2 separate regions of the Homo sapiens genome follow, and region 2 is linked to region 1. The links come from fine-mapping of genetic effects on gene expression. Tissue or cell type: monocytes after R848. Region 1 holds a variant in brackets; the other region holds the start of a gene. All regions are shown on one strand. Distances are between the middles of the regions.

Region 1 (4,384 bases):
AACACTCTTTCCTACTTCATTCTAGTGAACCTTCCCATACTGCAGAGGTGGAAGTTTATAAATGGCATTTCACAGGCTTCCATCCACGTAGGATTCTGGGTGAGAACTAGATATGGTCCATTAGATATACTTAGGTAAGATTTGTAAGGTAGAAATGAGGAAGAAGCCATTTTCCTGCAGTTGGCTGTTTCTGTTGGCCAATATGATCATTGCCGGAGACATGGGGTTTTTCTGAGGCAGAATATCAGTTTGTTTTGTTTTGTTTTGTTTTGTTTTGAGAAGGAGTTTCACTCTTGTGTCCCAGGCTGGAGTGTAATGACACGATCTCAGCTCACTGCAACCTCCACCTCCCAGGTTTAAGTGATTCTCCTGCCTCAGCCTCTCAAGTAACTGGGATTACAGGCACCTGCCACCACACCCGGCTAATTTTTATATTTTTAGTAGAGATGGGGTTTCACCATGTTGGCCAGGCTGGTCTCAAACTCCTGACCTCAAGTGATCCACCCACCTCAGCCTCCCAAAGTGCTGGGATTCCAGGTGTGAGCCACCAAACCCAGCCCAGAATTTCAGTTTCTAGTCTCTCTGAGTCTTGAAAGGTAGTAGCAGCAATAGGCCGGGTGCAGTGTCTCACAACTGGAATCCGAGCACTTTGGGTGGATCTCTTGAGGCCAGGAGTTCAACACCAGCCTGGGCAACATGGCAAAACCCTGTATCTGCTAAAAATACAAAAATTAGCCAGGCGTGGTGGCAAGCGCCTGTAATCCTAATTACCCGGATGGCTGAGGCACAAGAATCACTTGAACCTGGGAGGTGGAGGTTGCAGTGAGCCAAGATAGCGCCACGGCACTCCGGCCTGGATAACAGAGTGAGACTCTGTCTTCAAAAAAAAAAAAAAAGAAAAAAATGAATGAATGAAAGTTACTAGCAGCAATGATGGCTTGCAAAAACAGTACTTACCCAGTCTTCTTCTTCTTCTCCTTCTCCTTCTCCTTCTTCTTCTTCTTTCTTTTTTTTTTTTTTGACAGTCCCACTCTGTTTCCCAGGCTAGAGTGCAGTGGTGCAATCTCGGTTCACTGCAACCTCCACCTCCCAGGTTCAAGCGATTCTCCTGCCTCAGCCTCCTGAGTACCTGGGACTACAGGCATGCACCACCATGCCCTGCTAATTTTTGTATTTTTAGTAGAGATGGGGTTTCACCATCTTGGCCAGGCTGGTCTTGAACTCCTGACCTCATGTGATCCGCCCGCCTCGGCCTCCCAAAGTGCTAGGTGGCGCCCAGCCTACTATATATTATTTAGACCAGTAGTTCTCAAAGTATGGTCTGGGGACCTCCTGGAGACCTCCAAGACAGTAACAGGGAGTAAGTGAAATCAAAACTACTTTAAAAATGACACTAACTCATTATTTGCCTTTTTCACTCTCATTCTTTCAAAAGTGTGGTGGAATTTTCCAGGGGCTATGTGCTAATTCATTGCTAATGGCTAATGGAATGTGTGCTGGTATATTCTTGCATTTTCAAAATTCCTCAATTTTAATCTCTAAAGGAGAAAATATAAATAGCTGTAATCATATAAACAAAAGCTCTTTGGGGTCACCAGTAATTTTTTTTTTTTTTTTTTTTTTTGAGACGGAGTCTCCTTCTGTTGCCCAGGCTGGAGTGCAATGGTGCGATCTCAGCTCACTGCAACCTCTGCCTCCTGGGTTCAAGCAATTCTCATGCCTCAGCCTCCTGAGTAGCTGGGATTACAGGCACATGCCACCGCATCCAGCTAATTTTTTGTTTATTGTTTTTTGGTTTTTTTTAGTAGAGATGGGGTTTCACCGTATTGGCCAGGCTGGTCTCAAACTCATGACCTCAGGTGATCCACCCACCTCGGCCTCCCAAAGTGCTGGGATTACAGGCGTGAGCCACCACATCCAGCCATCAGGGTCACAAGTAATTTTTAACAGCATTAAGGGATCCTGATATCAAAACATTTGAGAACTGCTGACCTAA[G/A]TCATTGTGTATATTCATTCTTGTACTATTTGCAGTGGCTCCACTTTGGCCATTTCTGGATGCCTGATTCCCACACACGGCTATACCCATGCCATGTTCAACACCCTCCTACCAGGATGCCTTTCTATTTTGATTAAAACACTTGAGACAGTATCTTCTTGCACATGACCAGTAACAGCTGTTTTGGCACAGCCTTGGGACTCCACATAACTGTGAATTGTCCTCATGGCCAACACAAGACCCACAGACCAGCCCTTTGCCCTGCTGGTGCTGGATTATCTTTTCTGGCTGACTCATCTGGGATACCTGGTTTCTGCCCCTGCCTTTGCCCTGTTGAGCACTAGACTGACCCACTCTTGCCTCCCGTTCCTACTCTTGGTTCCCCTCCTGTTCAGGTGGCCGCTGCTGTGCGGAGCAGTTGTCAGCTGCCCATAACTAAGCTGAGTTAGTTGGGTTAGCAGGGGCCTGTATCCCTGTCCAATTCCAGAGTGAGCTGTGTCAAACTTAGGTTGCCTGGAAGTTTCCTGCCAACCAGATGATGGATTCATATTTGCTTTTAATCATGGCTATACTGGCCGGGTGCCATGGCTAATGCCTGTAATCCCAGCACTTTGGGAGGCCAAGGTGGGTGGATCACTTGAGGTCAGGAGTTTGAGACCAGCCTGGCCAACATGGTGAAACCCTGTCTCTACTAAAATTACAAAACCTAGCCAGGCATTGTGGCACACGCCTGTAGTCCCAGCTACTCTACTTGGGAGGCTGAGGCAAAAGAATCACTTGAACCCAGGAGGCGGAGGTTGCAGTGAGCAGGATCGTGCCACTGCACTCCAGCCTGGGCAACAGAGCGAGACTCCATCTCAAAAAAAAAAAATTATGGTTATACCTTCCCCCAAGAATGCCATTATCTGTGTATTTGTACTCTATAATTAGATTTAAAGTTAAAACATAAACTGTTGGCCAGGCATGGTGGTTCACACCTGTTATCCCAGCACTTTGGGAGGCTGAGGTGGGTGAATCACCTGAGGTCAGGAGTTCAAGACCCACCTGGCCAACATGGTGAAACCCAATCTCTACTAAAAATACAAAAACCAACCAGCCATGGTGGCGCATGCCTGTAATCTCAGCTACTCAGGAGGCTGAGGCAGGTGAATTGCTTGAACCCAGGAAGCAGAGGTTGCAGTGAGCCAAGATCACACCATTGCACTCCAACCTGGGCAACACAGCAAGGCTCTGTCTCAAAAAAACAAAAAACAAGAACAACAACAACCAAAAAAAAACTGTTAATAATAGATGTTTCTTGTGGATAGAAGGGACCATGTCATATATTCTGTCAACTTCACTTTTTTTTTTCTTTCTTTCTTTTTCTTCCCCCATAGTAAGAATGTATAGACTTTCAAGGGCTCTGGAAACAGATTGTGTTTGAATCCTGACTCTCCCACTTACAGTTGTGCGCACTTGGACAGGTCAAGTATTGCTCAGTGCCTCAGTTTTCAGTATTTCTTTCTTTTTTTTTTTTTTTTTTTGAGACTGAGTTTCACTCTTGTTGCCCAGGCTGGAGTGCAATGGCATGATCTTGGCTCACCGCTCACCGCAACCTCCGCCTCCCGGGTTCAAGCAATTCTCCTGTCTCAGCCTCCCGAGTAGCTGGGATTACAGGCATGTGGCACCACACCCAGCTAATTTTGTATTTTTAGAAGGGACGGGGTTTCCCATGTTGGTCAGGCTGGTCTCGGACTCCCAACCTCAGGTGATCTGCCCGCCTCGGCCTCCCAAAGTGCTGGGATTATAGGCATGAGCCACAGTGCCCGGCCAGTGCCTCAGTTTTCATACATGTAAAATGGAGATTTAAAACAGCACTGGCTGTGTGCAGTGGCTCACGCCTGTAATCCCAACACTTTGGGAGGCCAAGGCAAGTGGATTACATAAGGTGTGTTGGCTAGACCAGCCTGGCCAACACAGTGAAACCCCGTCTCTACTAAAAATACAAAAATTAGCTGGGTGTGGTGGTACATGCCTGTAATCCCACCTACTCGGGAGGCTGAGGCAGAAGAATCTCTTGAACCCAGGAGGCAGAGGTTGCAGTGAACTGAGATCGCTCCACTGCACTCCAGCCTAGGCGACAGAGCAAAACTCTGCTCAAAAATAAATGAATAAAAATAAAATTTCAAATAAAATTTAAATGCACCAAAAAAAGAAAAGCCTTTATCTCATAGAGTTAAATAACAAATACATGTAAAGTGTTTAGAATTATGACAGATACATACATATGTAAGTGATTAAAAATCAGAAAACAATGGACTTATAAAAGCTGCTATGGGCCGGACATGGTGGCTCATGTCTGTAATCCAACTCTTTGGGAGGCCAAGATGGGTGGATTTCTTGAGGCCA
Region 2 (4,384 bases), 140 kb before region 1:
AGCTTGAATCCTGGCTCCACCACTCATAAGCTTTTTGATCTTTTGACCTCTGTGCCTCACTTGCTTCATCTGTAAAATGGGAGTAACAGAACCTCGCAGGGTTTGAGGAGGACTACATGAAATAATGGAATGTTCCTGGCACAGAGTGGCCATGCATACGGGCAGCTCCTCTTACCCCGTCTGCAGTGGCCTGAAGCAGGTTCATAAATGTACCTGGAACCCGCTGGACTGATGAACCCTGCAGAGTCTAGCCGTGAACATGCACCTGGGTCCTAGGAGTCTACAGTTCATAATCTCTCTCATGCTTAGTGTTGCTCTTTTTATGTTGCTTTTATCTATTCATTATGTAAATATTTACTGAGCGTCTTCTATGTGTACCCTAGCATGGTGGGACCTGGGGTAAACCTGGGGTCCAATCCTGCTACCACTGAATACCTGTATGAATACCTGTATGACCCTGGCCAAGTGAATTAACCTCTTTAGGCCTCAGTTTCCTCATTTGTGAAACCTAGGTAATAAGCGCAGTTACCTCATTCGATTCAGAGGATGTCTGCCAAGCACAATGGGTGCACAGCTAAGTGCTCAATAACTACTAGTGGTCATGGTCACTGCTCTAAAGAACTTGGGGGCAAATGCAAGGTGCAGGATGGGGATGGAAGCAGACAACTGCTCACAGCCGGTCTACCCCAAACCCTTTTTCCAGGACATGGTGACCTACTTCATGAACCTGAGCCAGGCGAATGCTCAGGGGACGCCGCGCTGGGAGCTCGAGTACCAGCTGACCGAGGCCTATGGGGTGCCGGACGCCAGCGCCCACTCCATGCACACAGTGCTGGACCGCATCGCTGGCGACCAGAGCACACTGCAGCGCTACTACGTCTATAACTCAGTCAGCTACTCTGCTGGGGTCTGCGACGAGGCCTGCAGCATGCAGCACGTGTGTGCCATGCGCCAGGTGGACATTGACGCTTACACCACCTGTCTGTATGCCTCTGGCACCACGCCCGTGCCCCAGCTCCCGCTGCTGCTGATGGCCCTGCTGGGCCTGTGCACGCTCGTGCTGTGACCTGCCAGGCTCACCTTCTTCCTGGTAACGGGTAACGGGGGCAGCGCCCAGGATCACCCAGAGCTGGGCCTTCCACCATTTCCTCCGCGCCTGAGGAGTGAACTGAAATAGGACAACCGAATCAGGAAGCGAAGCCCCAGGAGCTGCAGCCATCCGTGATCGCGCCACTGCACTCCAGCCTGGGTGACAAAGCCAGACTCTCTCCAAAAACAAACCAGAAACAGAAAAGAAATGACGACCCAAGACCCCCCTACAAGCATACTTCTTTTGCGTATTATGTTTAACTCACAAAACAAAGCTCATCATGCGTTTGATTCTGTGTTGTGTTCCTTTTCTTTTCTTTTGAGACGGAGTCTCGCTCTGTCGCCCAGGCCGGAGTGCAGTGGCGCTATCTCGGCTCTCTGCAACCTCTGCCTCCCGGGTTCAAGCGATTCTCCTGCCTCAGCCTCCTAGCTGGGACTACAGGCGCGCGCCAACACGCCCGACTAATTTGTATTTTTAGTAGAGACGGGGTTTCGCCATGTTTGCCAGGCTGGTCTCGAACTCCTGACCTCAGGTGATCCGCCCGCCTGGGCCTCCCAAAGTGTTGGGATTACAGGCGTGAGTCACCGCGCCCGGCCTCTATTCCCTTCCGTATGGAAATGAGGTTAACTCATTTGCAGGAACCTAACGCCCGCCCTCCCCCGACTCGGATCGCTGGCGTGAACCCAGCGGCCCCGTGCTCTCCGGGTATCCCTGGATCGAGGCGCACGCGTTGTTGCAAAGTCTCGCACTTAGGGATTAGAATGTGCCTTTGCGTTTCGTTTTGTTTTGCAACAATACAGGTGTGAGGGATCGCAGCCCTGGTCCAGGCTCTAGTCTCCCCGCCCTCTCGCTTTCTTGGGCCTCCGGGCGCCTCAAAGGTAAAACTAGGCCATTTGAAGCCTGCGAAGCGAAGGGCAGTCGGTCTTCAGGCCTAGCGGGCTTGGCTGGGCTGGGTCGGTGGACCCCTGGGCTGGCGGCGGGAGCAGAGCATCGAGCGGCTTTTAGCTGGGGTTCGGGCGGAGGACCTGGGACAACCGCGGGCCTCGCTCCTCCCCGGACGGGGCGGGACGGGGAAGTCCCGCCCACCAGGCCCAGGCCCCGGGCCGCCCCGAGGGCTGCGCCCACCTCCTTCCTGCCTCGGCAACCCCGGGCCCTGAGGGCAGGCCCCAACCGCGGAGGAGCAGGAGAGGGCGGAGGCCGGCGGGCCATGCCCTGGTCGTCCCGCGGCGCCCTCCTTCGGGACCTGGTCCTGGGCGTGCTGGGCACCGCCGCCTTCCTGCTCGACCTGGGCACCGACCTGTGGGCCGCCGTCCAGTATGCGCTCGGCGGCCGCTACCTGTGGGCGGCGCTGGTGCTGGCGCTGCTGGGCCTGGCCTCCGTGGCGCTGCAGCTCTTCAGCTGGCTCTGGCTGCGCGCTGACCCTGCCGGCCTGCACGGGTCGCAGCCCCCGCGCCGCTGCCTGGCGCTGCTGCATCTCCTGCAGCTGGGTTACCTGTACAGGTGAGTGCTTCGCCCCGGGAGGGGAGGAGTGTCGGAGCCCAGCACCTCCGTCAGCTGGGTCACCTGTACAGGTGACACGCCATATGCCGGGAAGGGGACTGGGAGAGGGAACCAAGTCCTGTGGGCGCCTGGCCTACAGGTGAGCGTGCAGCCCTTTACGGAAAGGGAATCCCGGTAGACTGCCTTCATTCTAGCCCTAGCTTTCCTGGCACAGGCGAAGAAACTGAGGCCCAGGGAAGAAAGGGAGGCGCATGGGCTTTGAAGTCGGACCTCTCAGGGATCCACTTCTGGCTTTGCCCCCTCTCGCCTCACTTCTGCATTTCTCTGAGCCTCAGTTTCCTCCTGCGTAGAAAGGAGGTAGTCACCCTGAGACAGGTGTGACGGGCAGGCCTGTTGTGAAGAGTGAGCGAAAGAATGAGAAAGTGCCTCGCACAGTGCCTGGCCTGTAATGGCAGGGGCTGCGGACTCAGTTCAGCATCCCATGTTTCAGCATGGGCAGGGCCTTGGGAAGTCACTGACCTCTCAGTGGGGCTGTTTGGTTGCTGTTCCCATTGGGATGGGGATAGCGCCTGCCCGTTTGGTGAAGATGCAGTGAAATGACATCTGTCCACTGCCCTGGCTCAGAGTGAGCACTCAGCAACCTCAGCTGGCTTCTTGACCTGGGCCTCCCTGGGAGTTTCAGCAGCCCTGACCCCACCACAGCGCTTGCCCCTCACAAAGGCCGCCTCTCACCCTGTCTGCCTGGTTGTATTCTTCCCCCTGAAACTTGGCTTCCCACCCCAGACCCAGCAAGAGGGCAGAGATGGCCTCTGACTCATCCATGCCCATGGAGCCAGCCAGGGCTGGGCATAGGCTGGGTCCTGGAAAATGTGTGTGGATTCTGCTCCTTTTTGGACCTGGTGGAGCCTCGTAGAGATGGGAAAACAAACCCAAGGCTCAGAGGCATGCGACAAAGTCAGGGCAGAGGGTGGTGTGGGTTGGGATGGGGTGGCCAGGGCCAGGATCTGCTCTTGAATCCGTTTTTACAAACTCTTGAGATCTGGCCTTGACAAAGCCACACGGAGTCTCCAGGAGTGGAAGAGAGGAGCTTTGAATGTGGCAGTTTTGCCTGAGGGATTATAGAGACATCAGAAAACCCCGGGTGGGCATGAAGGGGTGCAGTTGTTAAGTCCTGGGCAGGCCTCCATGAGCCGTGAATCTGTAACTACCTTATGCATCTTTGTGGCCAATATTTCTGCTGAGCTTGAGTCAGACAGACTGTACTAGCTTTGGCTTTGGAAATGGGTCTCTGTTCCTGCCTGTGAATTGGCCGAGGCAGGGGTCCCTGCTAGGTCACTGGGGACCATAGGCAAAGGCTCCTGCTGAGGGAGAACCCCAGCCTGTCCTGCCTGCCTGCTCCTCAGTGTGTTCTTGTGTCCTTCCAGGGGAAGTGACAGTACATGTCTGGTGAATGAGCTTGTGATGAGTGAACGGGGTTCTCTCCCAATAGGCAACTGAGAGCAAAGTTCTGGGTGGAGGGTCCTTGGTGCATCCTCCACTTACTCTTCATGCCAGTGGGTACCCCAGACCTGTCTGTCCAAACTCTGGACTCTCTTAACTCCGCCCCAATCTCCATCCTTAACCACTCAGGGCCAGCCTCTTAAATGGGATCCCTCCTTCCAATCTAACCCTCCTCCAGCCCCTCCCCTGTGTGGCCGGGGCAAGGCAGAGTCTGATTCCATCTGGCCTGTGCCCAGAAGTGCCCAAGAGGCAAATGTCCTCTTGCCCACAGGACCCCAGGAGATCTTGGGCACA

Which allele goes with the higher level. Alleles are on the strand shown, and positions count from the first base shown. SD is a standard deviation of normalised expression in the study named.
With allele A in place of G in region 1, the expression in monocytes after R848 of the gene that starts at base 2,201 in region 2 is higher (large effect, 1.8 SD a copy in Quach 2016).

The links. PIP is the estimated chance that this variant, and not a neighbour inherited with it, causes the effect.
Region 2: it holds the start of XKR8, and the variant in region 1 is the best candidate, but not a certain one, in a credible set for the expression of XKR8 in monocytes after R848 (Quach 2016, PIP 0.68).

What each region holds. Positions count from the first base shown.
Region 1 is chr1:28,097,049-28,101,432 of GRCh38, forward strand. No RefSeq gene overlaps it. Among named protein-coding and RNA genes, the nearest start is that of EYA3, 11 kb to the left of the region's middle. The variant G/A (reference allele first, on the strand shown) is at 1,997.
Region 2 is chr1:27,957,773-27,962,156 of GRCh38, forward strand. It overlaps XKR8 (XK related 8), which reads left to right and starts at 2,201. Exons shown (of 3, transcript NM_018053.4): 1 at 2,201-2,590. The coding sequence starts at 2,298. SMPDL3B (sphingomyelin phosphodiesterase acid like 3B) reads left to right here. Exons shown (of 8, transcript NM_014474.4): 8 at 704-1,380. The coding sequence ends at 1,066. RefSeq lists a silencer at 2,072-2,461 and an enhancer at 2,142-2,705.